Linked DNA regions of Homo sapiens. The protein of the gene in region 1 purifies or fractionates together with the protein of each later gene. This does not show direct contact. Each region holds a gene or a part of one and is shown on either strand. Other genes may lie near its edges.

Region 1 (3,500 bases):
CACATAGGTACTGTGCCAGTCAGCATTCAGAGAAGCAGAACCACTAGGAGGTGTCTGTGTATGTGTGTACCTTTATATGTATCTTTATCTGGGATAACCCAGCCTGCTTGATTCCAAAGTTCATTCCCTTTCCACTGTACCCCACTGCTCTGCAGAGGAAAAATAGAATATGAGTCAACCTCTGCAATCTCGCTGAGATTCTAAGATAGTTTAGAACGTCATAAAATTGTAAGCATGTGGTTATCAGAAGTTGTCAAGTAGAGAAAAGAAGGGCAGATAGCTTCACGGTGGGTAGTGGCAATGCCTTTTTCACTTCCTTCCTAGTAGAAGAATCTCATTAAACTTGTCTCTTAGCAGCAGCATTCGAAACTATATACCACAAGCACCCAAAGGGATGATTTTCCACGTCTTGGCTTATTAATGTCCTTAAGTTCTCTGGTTACTCAACCTTCAGGTTTATTAGTTTCTCTCTCAGACAGTGGGCATAGCCCTCGAGTAAGGAGTGGGTGGAAGAGGTCCTGGGGCTGGTGAGATGAAAAATGCATTGTCCTTGGGCTGCAGGCTTCCCTCCAGCATTCTGACTCCTTTTTAGAAACTAAAGATAAGCTTTATTAAATTCTGGGGTCTCTCTTAGCCAGGTAGCTGCGAAGCTGTACATCCACATAATATATAGTGTTTGGAAAGTTTTGAAAAAGCACACCTTGGAGCTTGGGAGTCCATATCTACATTTAATTTTAAAAGGAAATGAAAAATGTGAGAAGTCTCTGTCAATTCCCTGCCCCTACCCCCTCTAAAAATGGAAATGAAATGAATCTATTTGGAAATTTGAAGAGTTGAATTTGAATGTGAGAGACCAAAGCCCCAAGTGAACAAACAACAGATTTTATTGTTTCTTTAAAAATGATTCTTTGGCCCTAATGTTGAAGTTTAATGACTTATTGAAACAATAGAGAAATGATTTAAAGCTGACAAAAAGAATAAATTAAATTGTCATTGGTATAAACTATTAGGTTGAGTGGTTCCTAATAATTTCGGACACTTAAGTGGTTGTAAAGATTTGGTGTGCTGCTGAAAGCGGGTATATTAATAATTCTGGTGTGATTTATAAAAACTAAAATCAGAATTTGGTGTTAGTACACTGTAGACACTTTACTCTTTTAGGAAAAAGGAATTCAATTTTTATTATTACCTGGTTTGTGTGCAGGCGGTAGTCTAAATACCTAGATCATTTCATTCTTACAATTAATTTCCTGTCAGTTATATACATAATTTTATTCCTGTGTTTGTAGATGAGGAAATTGAGCCTCAGAGAAGTTGAAAAAGTCACTCATGTGTAAGCTGGATTTTGTCATGGAGTCCATTGAGTCAGATCTGTTTGATTTTGAAGTCCATGCTTATTATTACTAAACTATTTTTTTGAGTAAGAAAATTCTTTTTATTCTAACATATTTGTAAAGAATCAGTAAGTAACAAGGTCATGGGATGCTATGGTGGAAAGAGCACCAAGCCTTAAGTCAGGGCCTTGGACTTGAAGTCAAAAATCAGAAGGAAGCCGGGTGCAGTGGCTCACGCCTGTAATCGCAGCACTTTGGGAGGCCAAGGCGGGCAGATCACGAGGTCAGGAGTTCAAGACCAGCCTGGCCAATATGGTGAAACCCCGTCTCTACTAGAAATACAAAAATTAGTTGGATGTGGTGGCACATGCCTGTAGTCCCAGCTACTGGGGAGGCTGAGGCAGGAGAATCACTCGAACCTGGGAAGCGGAGGTTGCAGTGAGCTGAGATCGTGCCACTGCACTCCAGCCTGGGTGACAGAGCAAGACTCCGTCTCAAAAAAAAAAAAAAAAAAAAAAAAAAAACAGAAGGAGACCCTGATGCCTGCAGCATATGGTTCTGTCCACCTCCATTTCCTCACCTGTAAAATGGGCATTGTGCCAACACCTGTCTCTCTGTCCTACTGGCTGCTCTGTCTTACTGAGCTCTTGTCTCTGAAAGTTCTGGGTAAATGGCAAAGTGGCATATATCTTTTATCCTGTGTATCTTTAAAAAATATAGTATTTTTTCTCCAGAGTGCGCATTAGGCTTGATTTATATTACGTCATTTAAACTGTCAAATAAATGTGGACCACATATATTAAACAGTTTTTATTCTGGAGGTGGTGATAGCTTTGCAATGATAGGGATTTTTAAAAAGCCCAGAGTGACACCTCAGATTAGAGTTTGCTACTGTTGCATAGGAGTTAAGTAGCCAAGCCATCTTTTCTCATTTCCCTTTAGCTAAAATACAGTGCACTAGGTATTTTTGGAAAATTTCCCCAAAGATCTAAAGTTTGTGGGAGGAAGGAGCGAGAATCACCCTTGATTCCATTACTCCAAGGCACTAGCCATTGTTAGCATATTTCATTCTGGTCTTCTCTAATTGCATTTTTTTTTTTTTTTTTTTTTTGAGATGGAGTGTTGCTCTGTCACCCAGGCTGGAGTGCAGCGGCGCGATCTCAGCTCACTGCAAGCTCCGCCTCCAGGGTTCATGCCATTCTCCCGCCTCAGCCTCCCAAGTAGCTGGGACTACAGGCGCCCACCACCATGCTTGGCTAATTTTGTTTTTATATTTTTAGTAGAGACAGTGTTTCACCGTGTTAGCCAGGATGGTCTCGATCTTCTGACCTCATGATCCGCCCGCCTCGGCCTCCCAAAGTGCTGGGATTACAGGCATGAGCCTGTAATTGCGTTCTTAACTCGCATAGGTTCTTTAATTGCATTTTTAACTCGGATAGGTTCATAATGCAATATAACTTTGTATCATGACTTTTTCAGTTTATGTTACACAGAAATGTTTCTCTATTTCCCTATACACCCAAAAAAGGGCTGCCTACTGTTCCACTATATGGATTCACTGTATTTTACTTCTATGTATCTATTTGGGAGATTTCAGTTGCTCATTATTTTTAAGTGAGTTTTAAAACTCATTTCAATGAATGCCTCTGTGCATGAAACTTTGCCTAAATATCAGAGGACTTCCACAGAAAATGGGTTCCTGAAAAGGCACTTTGAGGGTCAAAGATGTTCACATTTTTGAGGCAATTGATGACATCAGTGTTGATCTGAAGGTCATCCCAGGTTACATTCTCACAGCAATAGCCAAAAAGACTCAATTTCATATTCTTGTTATTTTCTCTGAAAAACATATTCGCTAATTTGTTAGGCAAAAATTGGTACCTTGATTGTTTTAATTTGTACATGGTTGGTAACTATCAGGTTGATTTTGTTTTCTTCTAGTTTTTGAGCCATTTGCAAGTGTGTAATCCTTTATGGATAATTCTGAAATGTAAAAAGCTCTGAAAACAAGTTTTTCTTGTAGGCTTTTGATACCCTCTGTAGGTTGTAAAACTTAACTTGAACTAATGTGAGGTTTTTAATTTTTTTTTTGAGATGGAGTCTCTCTCTGTCTCCCAGGCTGGAGTGCAGTGGTGTGATCTCGGGTCACTGCAAGCTCCGCCTCCC
Region 2 (3,500 bases), on another chromosome or scaffold:
TTGAGCTGACAAGTTTGAGACCAGCCTGGCCAACACAGTAAAACCCCGTCTCTACAAAAAAATACAAAAATTAGCCGGGTGTGGTGGCACACGCCTGTAGTCCCAGCTACTTGGGAGGCTAAGGTGGGAGGATGGCTTGAACCTGGGAGGCAGAGGTGAGCCATGATCATACTGCTGCACTCCAGCCTGGGCAACAGAGCGAGACCCCACCTCAAAAATAAATTTTTTAAAAAAGAGAGAGATAATGTAAAAGTAGATATTCCTGTCAGGAAAAAATGAATTAAATGAATCAAATCAAATGAACACATTTTCTCCTAAATTGTGCCCAGCCATCACTATAATAGGCTTATAGTCTAAAGATTTTAAAGTATATTTTAGTAAGGTTTTGCATTCACTGAAGAAAAGCACTAGCCCAGGCTGTTTTGAAAGATGACTAAAGTATTGTCACCTGAACCACACAAAACATAAGAATTTACAATTTTGTTAACCCCTTTTCTAAATAAGGTCTCTTGTCAGAGTCATGTTGAAAATTAACTGGCAAAACATCTGTAAGAATAGTCATCATCATAAAAATCATGCTATTCTCTCCATACAAAGATGAAAATAAAGACACTGCCATATGCTTCAAGTAAGTATTCAAGCAGCCTGATGGTTTTGCAATGAATCATCACTCGCTCTCCTGTTCACTCTGGTGATCTCCCATCTGAGCGGATGGCAACTCCATTCTTCCAGATGCTCTAGCCAAAAATCTTGGAATCATCTTATCTTCCCTTTCTCTCACATCTAATCCAACAGCAAATCCTCCTAACTTCAAAAAATATGCTATATCCAGAATCTGACCACTTCTCACCATCTCCACTACTACTTCTCTCCCCTGGATAACCTCCTTCCACCCTTGTGCCCTTATAAAACTATTCTTCATATTGCAGCCTGAGGTGTTTGTTTGTTTGTTTTTGAGACAGTGTCTCATTCTGTCACCCAGGCTGGAGTGCAGTGGCGCCATCTCGGCTCACTGCAACCTCTGTCACTCGGGTTCAAGCGATTCTCATGCCTCAACCTCCCGAGTAGCTGGGATTACAGACATGCACCACCAAACCCAGCTAATTTTTGTATTTTTAGTAGAGATGGGGTTTCACCGTGTTGGCCAGGCTGGTCTCAAACTCCTGGCCTCATGTGATCCACCTGCCTCCGCCTCCCAAAGTGCTGGGATTACAGGTGAGGCACCTCGCCCAGCCTGCAGCCTGAGTTTTAAAACGAAAGTCAGGTCACGTTAAATCTCTGTTCAAAACCCTGCAATGATTTTCAGTCTTACTCAAAGCAAAAGCCAAGTTCCTACAACAACTTACAACCTGACAATCAGGACCAAGCATCCATACCACCTTACCTTTCTAACCTCTTCACCTATCTGTCTCTTCACCTTCTGATTTACTCTGCTCTAGCTGCCCTCAAACCTCCTTAGCATTCCTTAATCACATTAGCATGCTTCTGCTTCAGAACCTTTGTTCTTGTTGTCCTCTGCTTGGAACAAACTTCCTGCAGATAACCACATCATTCACTTCTTCACCTTCTTCAGGTCTTTCCTCAACTGTCATCTTCTCAGTGAGGTTTTCCCTGACCTAAAACTGAAACCCCACCTCCACCCCTAGCAGTCCCTAACCCCTTTCCCTGCTTTTTCTTCTTTAGAGTTTCTAGATTATAAACTCTGTGAAAGCAGGCATTTTTTGTGTTTGCTTCATTGTTTTATCTCCAGCATCCAGAACAGTGCCTGGCACATAACAGGAGTTCAAGAAATATTTGCTGAATGAATTAATCACATAGTGGGGTATATTTTCAAGGAAAAAAAATCTTGTTTGGGGCAGAACACACACAGAAATAGCCCAGTCTTCATGGGTGTTATTTCATCGTTACCATCATGTACATTAACATTCACTGAGCATCCATTCTGTGTGCCAAGTCTATGCTGAGCACTTTCTTTACTTACATTTCTTCTTTTCATCTAATCATTACAATAATTCCATGTGATAGGTATTCATGGTCTTACAAGACAATGTAAGTAAAGCAATGTAATTAAGGTAAAACTTAGGTCATACAGTTAGTTAGGCAGAGTAGGGCCTAGAAATAAGAACTACCTGAGTTTCAACATTATGCTCTTAATCAGTAGGCAACTACCTCTTCAGATTAAAGCTAACATTTATTAACTGATTACTATGCATCAGGTTAAATTATTTACTTGCAATACCCTATTTGACTATTTTCATTTTAAAAAAAAATGAGGCCAATATTCTTAGTTGCTTAGCAAACATACAATTTCCCCTTCTTTAGTAAGATAATCCTGACCTATTTTGTTTGAAGTAATAATGTGTCCAGCTAAAGCTTCATTTTGCAGTCTGCCTTGCAAATGACCAAATTATACAGTTCTGGCCAGTAAAATAGAAGTGGAAGTCACTGAGTAAGGCATCTAGGAAAGAAAGCCTTTTAAAAGAGAACCAACTCAGCTGTCATGTGTCTTTGTCCTTTTGCCATATTCTTCTGGACAAGAACACAAGCATGAGTCTAGAGGTGGAACAACCATCTTCCAACTATGAGAAGGAGAGTCACCTGCTAAGTGTGGTCGCATGAAAAAACTAGGAGCCTGGGTGCCTGACAGCACCTAGGCTGCCACCTCCAGTCTTCTTGTTATATAAGGGGGAAAAAGGATTTTATTAAGCCACTATTATTTCCATTTTCCCCACATGCAGAGAAATGTAAGCCTTATTTGATACAACACTATGAGGTTGTTGGCCCAATGCTGGCCTCATAGAAAATGTCACCTTAGCTGAGTCTCCCAATCAATGGAAAAATACACTATTAAGCACCACTCTATTGAAAGCACGAAGTCCTTCACATTTATGGAGGCGCTAAAGGTAAGGCCCTGGAATCTGTATTTGAAAACCACAACTTTAAACTCAAAATGTGTGGCTAGTAAACAATCAATGAAAATAAAAAGAAGGGAAAGTCAAGAATAGAAATATATTGCACTGCCTTCAAAGTGTCAAAGCTAGGTGAATCACACCTTAAACCTAGTATTAAGTTTTCAATTTTCTAGTCTGAGGTAAATAGTAAATACTTATTGAGACTTTTCAAGATGCAGGGCAATAAAACCTAACTGGCACAGCCCTCTCTGCCATCATATTGTATTATTAGCAATATCATGGTGATGGTCCTTACAGTTATACTACGATGTCCAACATAAATCCCTAAATCCATCTAAACCTGAATGAGGCCTGGACTAAGAAAAAAAAAGATGCGAAAATAAAATAAATGCAATAATGTTCCACTAAGCATTAAAAACAGATTCAAACTATTTTAAGTGTCACAAGCTTTCACATCACATAGTATTTCATATTTCATGGCAATACCAAAAATTGGGAAATATGAGGACAAGGGGAAGGGTAAAAAAAAGTCAGAGATAATAACAACTATCATTTTATACAAGCTAAACACTTCCCACAAATAATTAC
Region 3 (2,622 bases), on another chromosome or scaffold:
TTCTACAAGGGGAGCAGTGCATCTGCTTGGAGAGTTGCTAGTCAGAATATTGGACTATTTTGCTTAAGCTACTGCTCCCTTAAAGGATCATTTCTAGGCAACTCTCCCATGTAAACCTGAGATGAAACCACAGGTTCACTCTATAACTAGTAGTCCTAGTTAGCTGTTATGGACGGTATAACTAGGCAATTTGTATTGGTTATCCTAACACAGGGAACATCCTTTTGTTTCTAGGGCATAATAAATGGAGGTCCAAATGCTCATGCCCAGCTCCTAAAGATGATAGTAACAAAGAGGTAGCATTTTGGTGTTCAGACAAGCACTTTCTAGAACATTTGCTTACATTATTGCCTTCCCAGAACCCTCGACCCCATGTCATCTGCCCCAAGTCCAGACGTTCCCTGTGAATATCTCCTCCCTGCTCTGCCTTTGAGGATCAGAAGTTTCCAGAGATGGACACACAGTCTGAACTAGAGAATCAGCTGCTGCACCACAGAAAGATGTCTGGGCTGCAGTCGTTCCCTGCAACCCACTGCCAACACTCCTACTCCTACTTCATGCCCCACAATCTCGCAGTTAGGACAGGCACACCTCTGCAGCTCTCACCTGCCAGCCCTCTCCGGCACAACTTGTTTACCAGCTAACATCCAGCGAGTAGGCAGGTCAGTAGCAGAACTGCCCCAGGCTCCTTCGTCTCCTGGGCTCCATTCTAGGGCTGCTGAATCAAGCTAGCAGGGGCTTAAGCCCAACAGTCCTTTCATTTCTTTGTGCTTCTTCAATAGTTCTGATGCTTGCACTCCTTTAGGTGAGTGGTTCCCAACATTTTTGGCACCAGGGACCACTTCCGTGGAAGACAGTTTTTCCACAGATAGTGGTGGGGGGATGGTTTCGGGATGAAACTGTTCCACCTCAGATCATCAGACATTAGCTTCTCATAAGGAGTGTGCAGCCTAGACCCCTCACATGTGCAGTTCACAATAGGGTTTGCGCTTCTGTGAGAATCTAATGTCTCAGCTGATCTGATGGAAGCTCAGGTGGTAATGCTTCCTCACCCACCGCTCACCTCCTGCTGTGCGGCCTGGTTCCTAACAGTCCATGGACTAGTACTGGTCCGTGGCCCAGGAGTTGGGGACCCCTGCTTTAGGTGAAATCAACAGCTGATATTGCCACATGGTAGCTTTGGCCACTCACTCCCAGAGGTCCAGCCTAGGGAGGTGATAACACCAACCTGAGATTCTCTTTGGCCCCTCTCAGCTCCAATCTTATTTGATTGTCACAGAAATCTCCACCCTTCTCCTTGTTCTTCCCATTTTCTAGGCTGTTTAGTAAGAGGCAAAATACTTGTTCTCCTACTTCTTCATCCCCTGGAGATATGCTTCACATTTATCTAAATTTTTGCAAAAGTGTGATAAACTCCAAGTGGGACCATTCCAAACATTATTCAGCTCATACCTGCGGAGTGGCCTGACCCTCTCAGTTCTGGGAAAGGTGAGAGGGCGCTGCAGTGGCCAGCAGGCACTCAGACTGGGCCTCCTTGCTCTTCATAAGCAATGCCGCACAGTGTGGGGATGTAAGGAGAAGACCAAGATAATGACAATAAATCATGGTTGGCCTTTATTGAGCACCGTTTATGTCAGTTATTGTGCTAGCACTTTACATGCATCAACTCATTTCACTGGAGGGAGGCACCTCCTTAGAACCTGAGGTCACCAGCCAATACACTGGAAGAACTGAGATTTCAGCCAAGGTTCTTTGAAAGCCACACCTTCTCCACCATGGTGGGCACTATGGAACCCTCGGCGGCATCTTTTGTTGATGGTTTTGCTTTTATTTTACAGAAAAATGCTGTGATTGAAAGCCTGCAGGAACAAGTAAACAACGCCAAAGAGAAGATTGTGAGGCTGATGTCAGCTGAGTGCACCTATGACCTCCCAGAGGGGGCTGCCCCACCTGCCTCTTCCCCGAACAAGGACGTCCAGGCGGTAGCCTCGGTCCACACCCTGGCAGCTGCTCAGGGGCCTTCGGGTCACCTCTCTGACTTTCAGAATGATCCTGGCATGGCTGCCCGGGATTCCCAGTGCACTTCAGGGCCCTCCTCATATGCACAAAGCCTTGAGGGGCCTGGGAAGGACTCCAGCTTCTCCCCAGGGAAGGAGGAGAAGATATCTGACTCAAAAGACTTTTCTGATCATTTAGACTCAGGTTGTAGCCAGAAGCCATGGACTGAGCAAAGCCTGGGTCCAGAAAGAGGAGACCAAGTCCCCATGAACCCCAGCCAGAGTCTCCTACCAGAAAGAGGCGGCTCAGATCCCCAGAGACAGAGGCATCTGGAGAACTCAGAGGAGCCCCCAGAGCGGCGGTCACGGGTTAGTTCAGTAATCAGGGAGAAACTTCAGGAGGTCTTACAAGATCTGGGCCTGGGCCCTGAGGCTTCCCTCTCCACCGCCCCCTCTTGTCATCAGCAAACCTGGAAGAACAGTGCTGCCTTCAGCCCCCAAAAGATGCCCCTCTCCAAGGAGCTCGGCTTTAGCCCTTACATGGTGAGGAGAAGGCGGGCAGCTCAGCGGGCCCGCTCACACTTTCCTGGCTCTGCACCCTCATCTGTGGGGCATCGGGCAAACA
Region 4 (4,241 bases), on another chromosome or scaffold:
TTATATATTTCACTGAATAAGTGAACAATGCAACATTATTTTTCTTTTTTTTTTTTTGAGACAGTCTTGCTCAGTCACCCAGGCTGGAGTGCAGTGGCACGATCTCAGCTCACTGCAACCTCCGCCTCCCAGGTTCAAGCGATTCTCTTGTCTCAGACACCCAAGTAGTGGGGATTACAGGCGTGCGCCAGCACGCCCAACTAATTTTTGTATTTTTAGTAGAGATGGGGTTTCACCATGTTGGCCAGGCTGGTCTCGAACTCCTGACCTCAAGTTATGCACTCTCCTTGACCTCCCAAAGTGCTGGGATTATAGGAGTGAGCCACTGTACCCGGCCATATCGTTCTAGTCACTGTCCCTATGCAAATTACATAATATTGCATAGTATTGTCTCCTGTTTTTAAAAAATTATATTGTAATGTCTTATTTGTCAAAAAACGAAAAGGTTTCACAATACTTCATCAAATAGCTGCATCAAAACTTCAACGTTTCCCTATAACCAGACATTTAGATTTTTCCTAATATTCACTGTTATACATAAATCATGCTGGGAGGAAGATCTCTGACTCCATGTTAGGATTTTAACATCATTGGGAAGTGTCTCCTACGCAAATGCACCTACCTCTATGGGACTCATAGGCATCCCTTACTTCTTTTTAGCTTCAACCTGCCACCACTGAAGAGATTTATTTGGTCGGTAATCAGCCAGTTATCAGCAGATTACTGTAAAAATATAGCTGTTGTTGGCCGGGCGCGATGGCTCGCGCCTGTAATCCCAGCACTTTCGGAGGCTGAGGTGGGTGATTTTCTGCTTTTTTCCTGCAATTTTACTACCGTAACTAGATAGAAAACACTAGTATATAAAATTGTTTTAAAAATGAAACAATTGTTATAAGTTTGTTCTTAATTATGTATGGGCAGACAGTTTAACCATCAGCTCCCTCTCCCAACAATACCACAGTCAACTCCTAACAAATCTCAAGAACAATTACACTTTTCACTCTTCTTATGACATTAAAAAAGAAGACAGATGGTGACACCATGTGAACTATTCATGTCATTCTCACATTACTTAGAGTGTGAAATAATAATCCTGCGTATTAAAGCGGGATGGTAAAAATAAATTCTTCTTGGTCCACCTGAACAGACACAGCATTTATTATCTCACCTATGACCTGCCGCGGGATGGGGCTGGAAGGACTGGAGTCAAGGCTCAGTGAAACTGTCTTACAAATAAGGAATTCCAATTTTCATTCTGCGTTTAGCTTTAGTTTTTGCAAAGTTATGCTCTATAAACTCAAGCTCTGAAAGGATCCAAGGTTTAAAGCCACGCTTTTGAGGCAGCAGTTCTCTTGCGGATGTAAAACTTTCAGAATTTAGAGTGTCAAGTTTTGCCTTTCTCTTATTTATTTTTTGTAATGAATCCACACTCTTTCCCCATTAGGAACAGGAGGTGTTGGAAAAAGCTAATAGCTTTACAAAGGAGAAATTAAACAGATACATTTTCTCATTCACAAACCCTTGTACAGATTTAAAGCATACTAAGAAAAACGACCATCTTATTTTATACCAGCTCAGCGGGGAGGCTCGGATCTCCGGTGCAGAGATAGGACAGGAAGAGGTGTGCGGCCAATTTTGTAACCAACCCTCCTTACTCCTAACTCCTCGCCTCACTGTGCCTCGGGTTTGGGAGATCCAAACGAGAATGCTCGTGAGAAAGCCACTGCAAACGGGAAAGTGCTGGGCGCAGGCAAGGAGGCATTCTCTCTGTTTAAGAAAGGTGCCACATTTGCAGAACAGGGATCGCTGAATATGCGAGCTTCCGCCAAGAAATAAATCACACCTATCCACCTCTCCTTCATTCCTCGCACACAAGCCTTGTCGTTTAGCTCATCCTTCCCACTAGAAAACAGCAAAGGATTGCATTGGAGCAGCAATCAGCAGATGCCACGCTGAGCTCAGAGACAAGCAGTGTAGACGGGACAGGCGTCCCAATACCGCTAAGCCACCACCGCCAGCCCGCTGGGTTCTGAGCAGTTTCCCCAGGTGAGTCACTTCCTGGAATCCTCTGGCAGCGGCTCTTCCCGTCACTCGCACAGGCCATCTTCCAGTTCCGAGCTGCCTCGGCGGGTCCCGGCGGCTGGGACCCCACTTCCCCGCTGTCTGCCCCCGCCCGGGGCCGCGCGCCGCACCCTGCACACCACCGACCGCTGTGTCCTTGGCAAAGTTTCTCAGCCTCTCTGTGCCTCAGTTGACTCATCGGAAAAACTGAGGACAAAACATCCACATCCCAGGGATGTTGCATGGATTCACGAGCAGCCACAGAACCCCTGGGGCCCCGGGAACCCTGCGGCCGGCGGGGTCCCCCGTCGCACGCTCTCCGGCCCTAGGAGGAGCCCGAGGCTGCGGAGGGCGGGTCCGCGAGGCCGGGTGCCGGGGCCGGGGGAAAAGCGCCGGGGTGGACGGCGGCAGGTGACCTTCCCCATTTGGCCATGCCTTCCTGGGGACCGCGGCCTGGAAAAAGGGACGTAGGCTACGCGGCCTCGGCGGCGGAAAGGCCGCGCGGGCCGGTAAGTCGGGGGGCAGCAACAGGAGGCCACTCACCACCACATGCGCCCCGGGCAGGGCGAGGGGCTTGGGGCTGATGAGCGGAGACACCATGTACAGCAGCAGCACGAAGGCCACGAGGAAGGCGGCAGCCAGCAGCAGCATCGCTCCGCGGGGCCAGGGGCCCGGAGCGGCCGGGCGGGGGCCGCCGGGCAAGGCGCGCAGGGCTGGGCTGCGGCGAGGCGAGAATCACGCGCGGCGGGCGGGCGCCTGGAGTGTTTGGGTTTGCGGGCCGGGGCGGGCCGCGGCGGAGGGGAAGAGGAGGAGCCGGCGCGCGCGCCACCCAGGCGGGGCGGTGCTTCCAGGGGGCGAGTAGGCCGCCACCGCCACCGCCACCGCCACCACTGCCAGAATCGCCTCTCGGGGGTCGCCGGGTGTCTCCCACTCCCCCGGCCTCGGGACGGGGCCCGCAGTCCGCAGCCTCTCCCGTGGAAACCGGGCCTCCCGTCCCTGTGCGTCGCGAGCGGGCTCCGGACAGCGCCAGATGCGAGCGCGCCGGGAAGGGCTGCGAAGACTCGCTCTTCGGGAGCTCGAATGGCTTCTTAGGACCCCGCAGGGCGGGTTTCCAGGCCTGCCACGGCCTCCAGTGTGGGCGTGACGAGCGCTCCTCCCTGGAGTTCAGCCCTCGGCTTGGGACTGCCCGCTGGGTTGCTCGGAGGCCCCGGAGCATCGGAAAGGGCGGCTGGAGGCTCCCGGAGCGGGCTCAGCCTGGGAGCCCAGCGACTACGCTCTGAAATCCCGGGCTCCATTCCATATTTTTTGGCGTTTTTAGAAGATGGTCACGGCCCACTTTCGCTTTTCAGAGGACCGGAAAGCCTTAACAGGGAGTTTTGAGGAATCACTAAGGTAATTCAATTTCATTGAGTTCAGAGTTCATCTTTACCAAGCAGGTTCAAAACAAATAAATAACGCAAACAACTCAGCTTTATTAAGGTCTCATTCACGTACTATACCATACAATTCCCGATTTAACGTGCGTAATAGGCCGGGCGAGGTAGCTCGCGCCTGTAATCCCCGACCTTTGGGAGGCTGAGGCGGGCGGATCTCTTCAGGTCTGGAGTTCGAGACCAGCCTGGCCATGATGGTGAAACCCCCGTCTCTACTAAAAATACAAAAAATCACCCGGGCATGGTGGCGTATGCTTGTAATCCCAGCTACCCTGGAGGCTGAGGCAGGAGAATCGCTTGAACCCGGGAGGCAGAGATTGCGGTGAGATCGCGCCACTGCACTCCAGCCTGGGTGACAGATCAAGACTCCGTCTCAAAAATAAATAAATAAATAAAGCTTATAATAAATTGTCTTTAATATAGTCACAGTTGTAGACCCATCACTACCATAAATTTTAGAACATTTTTGTCACAACCCCCCAAAATCCTATACTCATTGGCAGTCACGACCCATTTCCTCCCAAGCCCCGCCCAAGCCTAAGCAATCCCTCATGTTTCTGTCTCTATAATCTTGCCTATTCGGGATATTTCACATAAATGGAATCATATAATATGTAGCCTTTTTCATCCTATCTTTCACTTACTGTAATGTTTTCAAGGTTCATCCATGATATGAAGTACTACATGTTAATACTTCATTTATTTTTATTGCCAAATAATATCCCATTGTATGACTATACGACATTT
Region 5 (3,500 bases), on another chromosome or scaffold:
GTGAGAAACTGGGAGTGGGATTCTGGTCATGTATTAGACATTTATCTTTTAAAGAAATGCCAAACTGCTTTCCAGTGTGGTGGCACTTTACACCCTCATTTAACTCCCACTAGCAAAAAAACGCAGGAGACTTGCAATTTCTCTACAACTTCACCAACCCTCGGTGGTGTCTGTCTTGTTGATGACAAGCATTCTCCTGGGTGTGTGGTAGTATCTGATTGTGGTTTTTATTTGCAGCTGCCTGATGTAGAATGATGTTGAGCATTTTTTTCCATGTGCTTATGTGGCATCCATATATCTATACATCTACATCTACCTTGGTAAGGAGTTTGTTCAAATCTTTTGCCCATTTTTTATATGTATGTATGTATTTTTATTTATTTTTGTAGAGATGCTCAGGCTGGTCTTGAACTCCTGGCCTCAAGCAATCCTCTTGCTTGGCCTCCCAAAGCACTGAGATTATAGGTGCTTCCCATTGTGTCCAGCCCTCTTGCCCATTTGAAAAACTGAGTTTTCTGTTTGTTTATGTTTTTGTTTGTTGTTTTTTTACAATTGCACTTTGAAAGCTCTTTGTGTCTTTGTGTATTCTGGACATCAGTCTAAGACTTGAAAATATTTTGTTTGCCTGTGGCTTGCACAGGAATGAACACCTGGCTTTATTGTGCATTGCTTTACTGCACTTCACAGATACTGTGTTTTTTCACAAATTGAGGGTTTGTGGTGACCCTGGTCAAGCAAGTATGTCGGCGCCATTTTCCCCGCAGTGTGTGCTCACTTCAATTGTCTGTGTAAGCAGCTTTTAGCAATAAAGCACTTTTAATTCAGACACATAGTTTTTAGACATAATGCTGTTGCACACGTCATGTAAACGTAACTTTTATAAGCACTGGGAAACCAGAAATTCATGTGACTTGTTTTACTGACATGTTTACTTTATTGTGGCTTTCTAAAACCAAACCTGCAGTATCTCTCATGTGTGCCTGTATTTTTATTTTCTTAATGGTGACTTTTGAAGAGCAAATATTTTCAATTTTGGTAAAGTCCAAACTATGATTTTTTTCTTTAATAGGCAGTGATTTTGGTGTCAGATCAAAGACAAGCTTTGTCTCACTAAAGATCACAGAGATTTCATTCTATGCTTGTTTCTAGAAGTGTTCTATGTTCAGCTTTTAAGTTTAGGTGTCAGATGGATTTGGGGCTAATTCTTCCGTGGCGAATGAAGTGATCCTGGGTAATCTTTGTACAGGTATGAAGAACTCAATCATTCTTTTTTCTTTTCCATGTGGATATCCAATTGTTCTAGTACCACTTGTTGAACTATAATTTCTCCCTATTTAATGATTTTAGTACCATTATTTAAAGTCAATTGACCATAAATGAAAGCTTTAACTTTGGACCTTTCTTCTGGTCCATTTCTCTATATCTGTCTCTGTCGGTGCCACACTGTTTTTATTACTGTAGCTTTATGTCTCTCTCTCTGTCAGCGCCACCTGTCTTTAGTGCTACAGCTTTATAGTAACATTTAAAGTCTGGTTGTGTAAGTTCTCCAATTTTATTTTTTCTCAAAATCATTTGGCTAGTACAGTAGCCTAGGTCTTTTGAATTTGCATATACATTTTAGGACCACCTTGTCATTTCTGCTAAAACAGAAGCCTGCTGGGGTTCAGCAGGGATTGTGGTAAATCTGTAGATAAGTTTTGGGGAAAATTGCCCTTTTAATAGTATTTTTTTCCAATCTATGAATGCTGTACACCTTTTCACTTAATAGAGCGTCTCTGACTTCTCTCAGTCATGGTGTGTAGCTTTCAGTGTACATATTTGCATAAGGTTTGTCAAATTTATTCTTTTTTTATTAGACTATGAAAGGAAGTTTTAAAAATATAACCCGGATTTTTCATTGCTGGTGGATAGAGATGTGCGAGCGTGTATTTTAATATGTGCCCCACATCCTTGTTAAGTGATTTAATTATCTTAACTAGGTCTTAAAACATACTTTTTAGGTTTCATTGTCTGCAAATAAACACAGTTTTATTTTGTATTCTCTGTGCCTTCATTTTCCCTGCTATGCTGGGCTGGCCAGAATGTGACTGTGATATCAGAAGTAGGAGGAAAGGGCGTCATCACCTGTGCCCAGCCTCCAAGAGAGGGTCACAAGCCTTTCACCAGTAAATGTCACGTCAGGTACACAGGGTGCTTTCCTATCATTCCTAGGTCACTGAGATTTGTTAAAAATCATGAATGGGAACTTGCTGTTAACAAACCCTTTTCTGCATTGATTGGCATGATTGCGTGGTTACCGTTCTCTATTGGACTAACGTGCTGAGCTGTAGTAATTGATTCCTAGGCCTTAAGCCACTGCTTACCCCTGGAGTGATATCACTTGGCCACAGTGCACATTCCTGCCCCGTGCTGCTCGATTTGGTTTCCCAAGGTCTTATCAGTGATCTCTGCCTGTGTTTCCTGAATGTACTGGCTTATGAATATCTGGTTTGGTGTCAGGTTGATAGTGGCATTGCTGAATGAGTTGGGAAGTGTTGCTTCCTTCTCTGTTTTCTGAAAGAGTCTGTGTGTAGGTTGTATTGTATTTTTTCTTTAAATCTTTGCTGGAATTCATGCATGAAGACTACAGGGCCTGGGATTTTTCTTCACTGGGAGATTTTAAATTAGTAGTTTAGTCTCTTGGCTGTTCTATGTCTATTTAGACTTTCTATGTCTTCTTGAGTTAGTTATAATAATTCATGTCACTTAACCGGAAAGGGAACTAACTTCCTTAAGTTAAAAATCATGTTTCAGGCCAGGTACAGTGACTCATGCTTGTAATCCCAGCACTTTCGGAGGCCAAGGCGGGCGGATCACCTGAGGCCAGAAGTTTGAGACCAGCCTGGCGTGTTAAAACCACATCTCTACTAAAAATACAAAAATTAGTCGGGCGTAGTGGCATACATCTGTGATCCCAGCTACTTGGGAGGCTGAGGTAGGCAAACTGTTTGAACCCAGGAGGTGGAGGCTACAATGAGCTGAGATTTCACCACTTCACTCCACCCTGGGCAACAGAGCGAGACTCTGTCTCAAAAAAAAAGATGCAAAAAGCACATTTCAACTTTGGAAGATGTATCGTGCAGTATAGAAATGTCCAGGAGACTCAGTTCCTTTCCTATCTTTGCACTAGGAAGTCCGTGGTGCATGACTGGTGTTTATGTTCACAAAGACACATAGACACACCCATGCACAGAGCCTCACACACAGACACACACACAGCAGAGTCCATGGGCTGCATCGGCCCTGAAGTAAAGGAGCATGGCTGAGAGGTCCCAACCACCGAGTGACCTTAGACATTGTCCCAGGCCTGGAGAAATGGAGCAGAGAGACAGGTGGTACCTGGAGAACTCCTTTGTCCATTTGCACGTATGGATCTTTCCTCACTGCTTGATGTTTTGAACTCTCTTCTTTGCGGTTATTAATGAGATACTCAAAGGTGGTCATCTTCTTGGCCTCTGGAA
Region 6 (4,109 bases), on another chromosome or scaffold:
TTATCCCAGCCCCAGCTGACTGCAATGGCGTGAAAGACCACAAGCAAGAACCACATAGCTGAGATGTTAATAAAATGATTCTGTTGTTGTAAGCCACTAAGTTCTGGGGTGACTCATTATGCAGCCATCAGTACCTGAAGCAATGAGAGAAACAGACTCTAGATAATCTTGACAAGCAGGGCAAGTGCCCTCCCTGCCCTCTGTGCTCAGCTCCAAGTCCAAACACTGAGGCCCTGTCTCCACTCATGTCTCCTTCCTTAGTAGGTATCTACTCCTGCATAATAAATTACCTCGATATTTAGTGGCTTAAAACAATAGTTATCACTTACTCCTCACAGTTTCTATTGGTCAGAAATGTGGACAGTGCAGCACAGAGGAGATGACGTGTCTCTGCTCCACTATGCCTGAGGCCTTGCTGAAAGACTCAAAAGCTGAGGGCCAGATGCCCCTAGAGGCTCTCACATTCTCTCACATGTCTGTAGGATGATGTTGGCAGCAGCTGAGACCTTATCAGCAGGAGTGCTCACTAGAACCCCTCTATGTGGCCTGGAAATGTCCTGGAAGTGGTGGCTGCATTCCAAAGGTGAGTGTTCCAAGAAAGCGGGCAAGCCAGGTGAAAGTGTATCCTGTTCCTGATTCAGCCTTGGATCAGGTCTGTCTTACTCACTGGTCAAGGGAACCACAAGTCCCTATTGACATGCAAGGGGAGAGAATCATAAACCCCACCACTAGGTGGGAAGTGGACAATGTCAAACTATAACTACATGTGGAAGGGGATACTTACGGGTGAGGCCCTTGAGGGAAAATACAATCTGCTACACCTTCCTTTTTAAATAGAACAACTGCCCTTAATCCTGACCTGAGTTCCTAATGATGTCATTTATGAGACTGGCATGCAAGGCACAGACTCAAAACTGGCTTTGACTTTCTAGAGTTTTCACAACTCCTTTAGGGAGGTGACACAGCCAATCCACACCACCAGGTACAAAGACATCTGCACCATGGTGGGAGATGAGAAGTGAGTCTTTTCAGTACAAAACCCTTCAGCTAAAACCGAGGTGGCTCTGGGTAGGCGCCACCTGCCCCTATGGGGCTCACTCAGTTTCTGAAGCATTTGAAGGACTGCCTAGGAGCTGTGAGATCCTTTCTAACACTCTGATACCATGGTGTTCTCCAGCCTATTTCCTTTATCTGGCAAAAAATGTTTCTTAAATAGCAAGTGAACACCAGATAGTCAACTTCCAATCATGAGCAATAAGCGAGAAGTTATATTTAGCTGTAAAATTAAGTACAGAAGTGGAAGAAATGGTAACAGATTTTCCCTTCTATCTCTGCTTTGCTTAAAGTTAAAAAGCACTACGTAAAAATTCCAGAAAATATAGACATGTCACAGGTAATGGAACTCTAACTGAACTGCTTTCATGTTCGTTCTTAGACCTTGGCTGGACTCCTGTATCATGTACCAGGCCCATAATTTCAGGACGGAAAAAAAAGAAAGGTAGTCAGAGAAGATACACTAAATAATTCAAGAGTTGAGAGAATAAGACCTAGGAGGGAAGGGATGCAGGTTATTCATCCTGGAAAAGAAGAGCTAAATACAAGTGCCACAAAAGGCATGAGGCCTGGGATTCAGGCGATCCAGCCAGCAAGCCAGGCAACTTTGGACAAGTCACTTGACCCACTTGTACCTTAGTTCTCTCATCTATAAGGTGACAGGGTTGATTTGGTTCATCACAAGGTCCCACTGCCTGGATACTGACGACAGTGACAATTTCCCTACTGCCCCGAACAGTAATGAGTTTCCCTTGTTAACACAGGCCACTGAGGTCAGGCATACCGCAGTGCTTCTAACAGTGAGAATGAGACACAGAAGCAGGGAAATGGGTGAGCTCAATGGTCCCCAGAATTGGGAAGGACCAGGACGCAGTGATTGCTGATGGAAGGCAGATCCTGGATGATGTGAGCACGTAAGAGCAAAGGCTACACGGCCTGAAAAAATACCGTAAATGACTGAAAATAAAGCTGGGCAACATCTCAGCCAGTGATGTTCTAAAACAAAACGGCAGACCCACTACAGCAGCAAGGGTTAACCAAAGTGAAGCTTCAGCCTTCAGGGAGCCGGCCAGCCACAGTCCCTCTACTTCAGAGTTTATCAGACGCGGGCACTGCACGTCCCGGGGCTCTCTACTCCACACACGTTAGCAAACAGGAAGAAAAGTTTTCTTGCCAACTTATTATATATATATTTCAACACTGAATCAACATTTCCTTTCTGCTGAGGAGAATCAGCCTCTATTAACTTGGGGAAAGGATGCTGGAGTGAGGTTAGGGGGGAAAGGCCACTCCCCAATCCCACCCCCTCCCTGCCCCGCACGCACGGACGCCCGGGGCCGAGTTTCACAACATCCTCCCCAGTCCGCGGAGCCCGCCCTTCCTCTAACAGCTGGAGGCCCGGGATTCCGAAAGCAGAAGGCGGAGTTCCAACCTCTCGGCTCGGGAAGGGACTAACGCGCAGCTGGCACCGGGTCGGACCGGGCCGCTCCCCAGCCAAGCCCCCTCTCGCTAGCACTCATGGGCACCGGGGCTTTGGGGCGACCCGACGTCCCTTGGGCTCCCTCTCGGCGCCCGCGAGGCCTCCCCCGGTCTGACCTCCGTCCCCGGACACCTACTCACCAGGTCCTCCCGACGTCCTGGCCCCGAACTTGGCCTGCTCCGGGGCGCAGGGAGCGAGCCCGGTGCCCAGGCGCGTCCCAAGCGCTGCCGCGGCCGCCTCGCCTTTCGACTCGCCAGCCCTTTCTGCGGCGCGCCGGGGCCGGACGGCCGGGCGGGCAACGTGGCCCTTCCCCGGCAGGCGGGGCGGGGCGGGGCGGACTGAGGGGCGTGACCGACAGCCCCGCCGCGCCCCGCCCCCCGGCCGGCGTCCGCCAGGCCCCCTCCTCCTGGCCCGCCTCCTTTCCCCGCCGCTTCTCAGTCAACCCAGGACCCAAGTTTTCCCAGGACCCCAACTTCGGGAGTCGGCTTTCCGGCTCCCTGGCGCAACCCTGAGGGTGGACGCCCGACCCCACCCCTGCCCTCGGCCCTCCAGCGCAGCTGCCCAGCCTGGAGCCGCGCCTGAAGTGGGCCCGCAGTCCAGGAAAGGCGTTCACCAAACCCTAGGCCAAGGGCTGGGAGCCAGTCCCCCCACCCCAACCCAGGGGAGGCTGAGGAGCCCGGGTGGGAGCCCCAGGGTCGCGTGGGGCAGGGACAGAACAGGAACCAGGGTGCCCGACGGGGGGCCGGGGGGAAACACCTGTGCCAAAGCAAGCCGGGGCCAGCTGTGGCTTCTTCCCTTTTGTTTTTCCTTGGTGGGTGGGGAATGAGAGCTTCAGTTCTGAGTAAAGAAAGCGAAGAGAGACCTACCAGCAGGGGAGGCCCACCAGCCCTAGGCGGGAAGGACTCGGTCACAAGCTTTGGCGGAAGCACCATGGAAAAGCCTAGAACGGGTCTGCGCCCGGCTGGTGTTTTAAAGGGGAGGAAGGTGCGGACCTGAAGAGGAGGTGGAGGTGGACCCAGGCCCACCGAGGGGAGGGAGGGACAGCTCTTCCATAGCAAATACCTGTCGCTGAGCCAGGAGTAAAGTCTGGCCGGGAGGAGGACAGACGCAGAAGACCAGGGGCTCCAGCGCACAGAGCCAGTTTCGCCAGCGATCAGGTCTGAGGCCTGGATTCCACGAGGCCGGTGCAAGCCAGGAGCCAGCCCCACTCCCTCGCCCAGCTCCCTCCGGCCTGGCCCTCTGCAGAAGCCTGATGCCCACCCAGCTGTCTCACCATGGGACCCCAGGCGGTGAGGGTGGGTAGCCGAGGACTACAGGCTGCTGGGTAGCTGACTTCCCCAAGAAGGGCTGCTGCCATGTGATCAGGACCCACGCCCCTGACATCAACCCCTCCCCCGTGTTCCAGAGCACGGAGCAGCCCGGAACTCTGCGGCCTGTGGTTACTGACTGACTGCTCACTAACTTGTTTCTACATGAAACCACGAATCGTGCAGGGTTCTAGAGAAACAAAGGGCCGCGCGCACCCGCAGGCCCCTGCGTGGAGGCGAGGACCTAAATCAAAACTGCTAAGGGGTCA
Region 7 (3,500 bases), on another chromosome or scaffold:
ATAAATATGATTTTAGCCAGGCACGGTGGCTCACGCCTGTAATCCCAGCACCCTGGGAGGCTGAGGGGGGTGGATCACCTGAGGTCAGGAGTTCGAGACCAGCCTGACTAACATGGTAAAACCTTGTCTCTACTAAAAAAAAACAGAAAAATTCCCCGGGCATGGTGGCGCGTGCCTGTAACCCCAGCTACACGGGAGGCTGAGGCAGGAGAATTACTTGAACCTGGGAGGCAGGAGTTGCAGTGAGCCGAGATGGTGCCATTGCACTCCAGCCTGGGCAAGAGCGAAATTCTGTTTCAAAAAAAAAAAAAAAGGAATGGTGACCGAGAAGTACTTTTGAGAAATTTATTTTACATGAGATTGTAACTATACTGAATTAATAAAACTTAGACAGTAGAACATGACAAGTAGCAACTAATGTAAGAAAAAAGCTAGAAAGAAAATGATTCTATGCCCCACATTTATGTGGATTTTGAAGACATAAGAAAGTTCAATGAATTGAACAGGCTAATTATCTATAAAATGGAAAACATTTCTATAAATAAAAAGAATTTAATCAAATGTATTAGAACTTACATATTCAAATGAGTATTTTCTTCCAAAAGAGGCTTTACAGGAAACAGTCTAATATATTTTATGATTGTGAAAAACATTTTTGGAATTCTCTTTTAGAAGCTAACTTCAGATATGATTTGTAACCCATGTAAGAAAAATCAAACAAAAACTTTATAATTATACATTATCTTGACCTAAAATCAGTATTTTTAAACTTGAGCATCTATCTTATTTTCCAAATAAGATACTTCAAAAAATAAAATACTTCCCAGAGCTAAAGTTTTTTAAGAATTACTAAAGATAGTTTATAATGTGGTGTAGGTTCTGAAAAAATTCCCAGAAGAAAAATCTCAAAACATTCGGATTGATTAAAATTTCACCAGAATAACTGTAGAGAAAGTAATTTCTTTGAGGGACAAGAACTCAACTATGGCCAGGCACGGTGCCTCACACCTGTAATCCCAGCACTTCAGGAGGCTGAGGTGGGAGGCTCACTTGAGGCCAGGAGTTCAAAACCAGCCTAGGCAACAAAGTGAAACTCCATCTCTACAAAAAAATAAAAAAAAATTAGCCAGACATAGTGGTGTGCCCAGGTAGTCCCAGTATTCTGGAGGCTGAGGCAGGAAGACTGCTTGAGCTTTGGGGTTCGAGGTTGCAGTGAGCCATGAGTGTGCCACTATACCTACATCCCAACCTGGGTGACAGAGTGAGACCCTGCCTAAAAAAAAACAAAAAAAGAACTCAACTGTATATGAACCACAAAAGATCTGTTAAAATGCAGATTCTGATTCAGTAGATAGGGGATGGAGGCCTGAGATTTTAATTTCTATTACATATTATGCATTTTTAATTTTAATATGCATTACCAGGTGATTCTGATGCTGTGATGCATGGATCGTTCTTGGAGAACAGTACCTCCTTTTGAAGAGCTGGCAAGAGCACTAAGATAAGAAGTAGTTGTCAAATATCAAGAAGCTGGTCAGTAATCTTGAAGAGTGGTCCATGCCCATCCTGTCCTTAATTTATTTATTTTTTGGAGATGGGGTCTCACTACGTTGTGCAGTCTGGACCTGAACTCCTGGCCTCAAGCGATCCTTCTACCTCAGCCTCTCCAGTAGCTGGACTACAGACGTACACCACTGTGTCTGGCTTATCCTTTGCTTTAAAAGAAAATTCTCTGTGAGATTTCAAACTAGGATAGGTAACAGTCTCCATTAATGAATAATCCAGTGAACATGGAGTTTTTTTTTAATTGAAATGTTCTAAAATTCATTGTGGTGATGGTTGCACAATTCTATGACTATACCAAAAACTCTTAAATTATATACTTTCATTTTATTATTTTTTTTGAGATGGAGTCTTGCTCTGTCGCCTAGGCTGGAGTGCAGTGGCGGGATCTTAGCTCACTGGCTCACTGTAACCTCCTGCAAATGAATAAATGAATCTTTTTTTTTTTTTAAGACAGTCTTGCTTTGTTGCCTAGGCTGGAATGCAGTGGCATGATCTCGGATCACTGCAACCTCCACCTCCCGGGCTCAAGTGATTCTCCTGCCTGAGCCACCTGAGTAGCTGGGATTACAGGCGCCTGCGACCATGCCTGGCTAATTTTTCTATTTTTAGTAGAGACGGGGTTTCGCCATGTTGGCCAGGTTGGTCTTGAACTCCTGGCCACAAGGAACCTGTCTGCCTCGGCCTCCCAAAGTGCTGGGATTACGGGCGTGAGCCAATGCACCAGGCATAAATGAAATCTTTAAAGAAGCTCAATCTTCTGAAAAAGACTTTACATTTCTTTCATGGTGCTCATGGTCTTTTCATGGTGGTGCTACGATAACAAAATTAAGGACTTGTCTAAACAGGCAAGAAAGGTTTTAATCCCAATCTGGTTTGTAATGTGACTTCTGCTCCCATTTGTTACCTTTCATTTTTGGTAGAAGATGTTGAAATTCTTCTAGCGTATAGGCTTCGTCTACTCCAGTTAGAGCTATTGCTCCATCAGTGCCAGATCGCGGACCATCCCAAAGTTCTCGACTGGGATCTCGCCGAGGCACAAAAAGTATGGCTTTGTGTGATGGTAATTGTTTGCCAGGGAGGCTCTGAAGGACAAGAATGCTATCAGGCTCTTGGAATCCACATAGGTACAGGAAATTGTTGTCTTGGTGGAAAGTATAGGGAATATCGTTGCTCATGTAGTATGTAGGGTTGGAGAGCACAACCACTGTCTGGTCTGTCCCACTCTGCCCTTGAGCTTCCTTCTGGATCAGAGACATTAGTTTGTGTCTGCGAAGTGCATATTCCACCTGAGATAGTCCTGGAGTTACCTCCCCTAGAAATGACAAATAAAAGGGATGCTTTACATTTCTGCAGTGCCAAAGTACTTAAGGTAGTTTAATATTAGATGGAAATACTCAAGTCCAATTGTTCAATTTATGCCAAATCTCCTCACAGCACATGGAGAATTAAGGAGATAACCAGGTTTCAAACTTGTATTCCACTGCAAAAATTTGGAAGAAATGATAGTTGAATGTGGCCCCGCCTGAAATCTGGAATCATGGACCCCTTAGATCTCTTCCAGGTCTTTGGCTCATTCTTTTACTCACTCAGTTATATTCATTGAATATAATTTTTTTTTTTTTTTTGAGACAGAGTTTCGCTCTTGTTGCCCAGGCTGGAGTGCAGTGGCATGATCTCGGCTCACTGAAACCTCTGCCTCTCAGGCTCAAGCAATTCTCCCACTTCAGCCTCCCGACTAGCTGAGGTGGTTCACGCCTGAAATCCCAGCACTTTGGGAGGCCAAGGCAGGCAGATCACCTGAGGTCAGGAGTTCAAGACCAGCCCGGCCAACATGGTAAAACCTCATCTCTACTAAAAAAAACACAAAAATTAGCCATGTGTGGTGGTGCATGCCTGTAATCCCAGCTACTCGGGAGCCTGAGGCAGGAGAATCG

What was found.
Region 2: the proteins of RELL1 (region 1) and OXSR1 purify together in Homo sapiens (affinity purification with mass spectrometry; 2 studies listed by BioGRID and IntAct, with this or other methods). This does not show direct contact.
Region 3: the proteins of RELL1 (region 1) and GPR156 purify together in Homo sapiens (co-immunoprecipitation; one large-scale study listed by IntAct). This does not show direct contact.
Region 4: the proteins of RELL1 (region 1) and KDSR purify together in Homo sapiens (affinity purification with mass spectrometry; 2 studies listed by BioGRID and IntAct, with this or other methods). This does not show direct contact.
Region 5: the proteins of RELL1 (region 1) and ZDHHC11 purify together in Homo sapiens (co-immunoprecipitation; one large-scale study listed by IntAct). This does not show direct contact.
Region 6: the proteins of RELL1 (region 1) and MGAT1 purify together in Homo sapiens (affinity purification with mass spectrometry; 2 studies listed by BioGRID and IntAct, with this or other methods). This does not show direct contact.
Region 7: the proteins of RELL1 (region 1) and XPNPEP3 purify together in Homo sapiens (affinity purification with mass spectrometry; one large-scale study listed by BioGRID and IntAct). This does not show direct contact.

Annotation. Positions count from the first base shown.
Region 1 is NC_000004.12:37,679,877-37,683,376, reverse strand, and holds part of RELL1 (RELT-like protein 1 precursor), read left to right. Parts: intron 1-3,500. UniProt on the Homo sapiens protein: Induces activation of MAPK14/p38 cascade, when overexpressed. Induces apoptosis, when overexpressed.
Region 2 is NC_000003.12:38,172,037-38,175,536, reverse strand, and holds part of OXSR1 (serine/threonine-protein kinase OSR1), read right to left. Parts: intron 1-3,500. UniProt on the Homo sapiens protein: Effector serine/threonine-protein kinase component of the WNK-SPAK/OSR1 kinase cascade, which is involved in various processes, such as ion transport, response to hypertonic stress and blood pressure.
Region 3 is NC_000003.12:120,167,601-120,170,222, reverse strand, and holds part of GPR156 (probable G-protein coupled receptor 156), read left to right. Parts: intron 1-409; exon of another isoform or gene 410-662; intron 663-1,838; coding exon 1,839-2,622. UniProt on the Homo sapiens protein: Orphan G-protein coupled receptor involved in the regulation of hair cell orientation in mechanosensory organs of the inner ear.
Region 4 is NC_000018.10:63,364,407-63,368,647, forward strand, and holds the start of KDSR (3-ketodihydrosphingosine reductase), read right to left. Parts: upstream 2,801-4,241; 5' UTR 2,713-2,800; coding exon 2,605-2,712; intron 2,595-2,604; exon of another isoform or gene 1,844-2,594; intron 724-1,843; exon of another isoform or gene 1-723.
Region 5 is NC_000005.10:833,987-837,486, forward strand, and holds part of ZDHHC11 (palmitoyltransferase ZDHHC11), read right to left. Parts: exon of another isoform or gene 3,495-3,500; coding exon 3,379-3,494; intron 1-3,378. UniProt on the Homo sapiens protein: Endoplasmic reticulum-localized palmitoyltransferase that could catalyze the addition of palmitate onto various protein substrates and be involved in a variety of cellular processes.
Region 6 is NC_000005.10:180,800,007-180,804,115, forward strand, and holds the start of MGAT1 (alpha-1,3-mannosyl-glycoprotein 2-beta-N-acetylglucosaminyltransferase), read right to left. Parts: upstream 2,801-4,109; 5' UTR 2,674-2,800; exon of another isoform or gene 2,670-2,673; intron 1-2,669. UniProt on the Homo sapiens protein: Initiates complex N-linked carbohydrate formation. Essential for the conversion of high-mannose to hybrid and complex N-glycans.
Region 7 is NC_000022.11:40,881,148-40,884,647, reverse strand, and holds part of XPNPEP3 (xaa-Pro aminopeptidase 3), read right to left. Parts: intron 2,879-3,500; coding exon 2,471-2,878; intron 1-2,470. UniProt on the Homo sapiens protein: Catalyzes the removal of a penultimate prolyl residue from the N-termini of peptides, such as Leu-Pro-Ala. Also shows low activity towards peptides with Ala or Ser at the P1 position.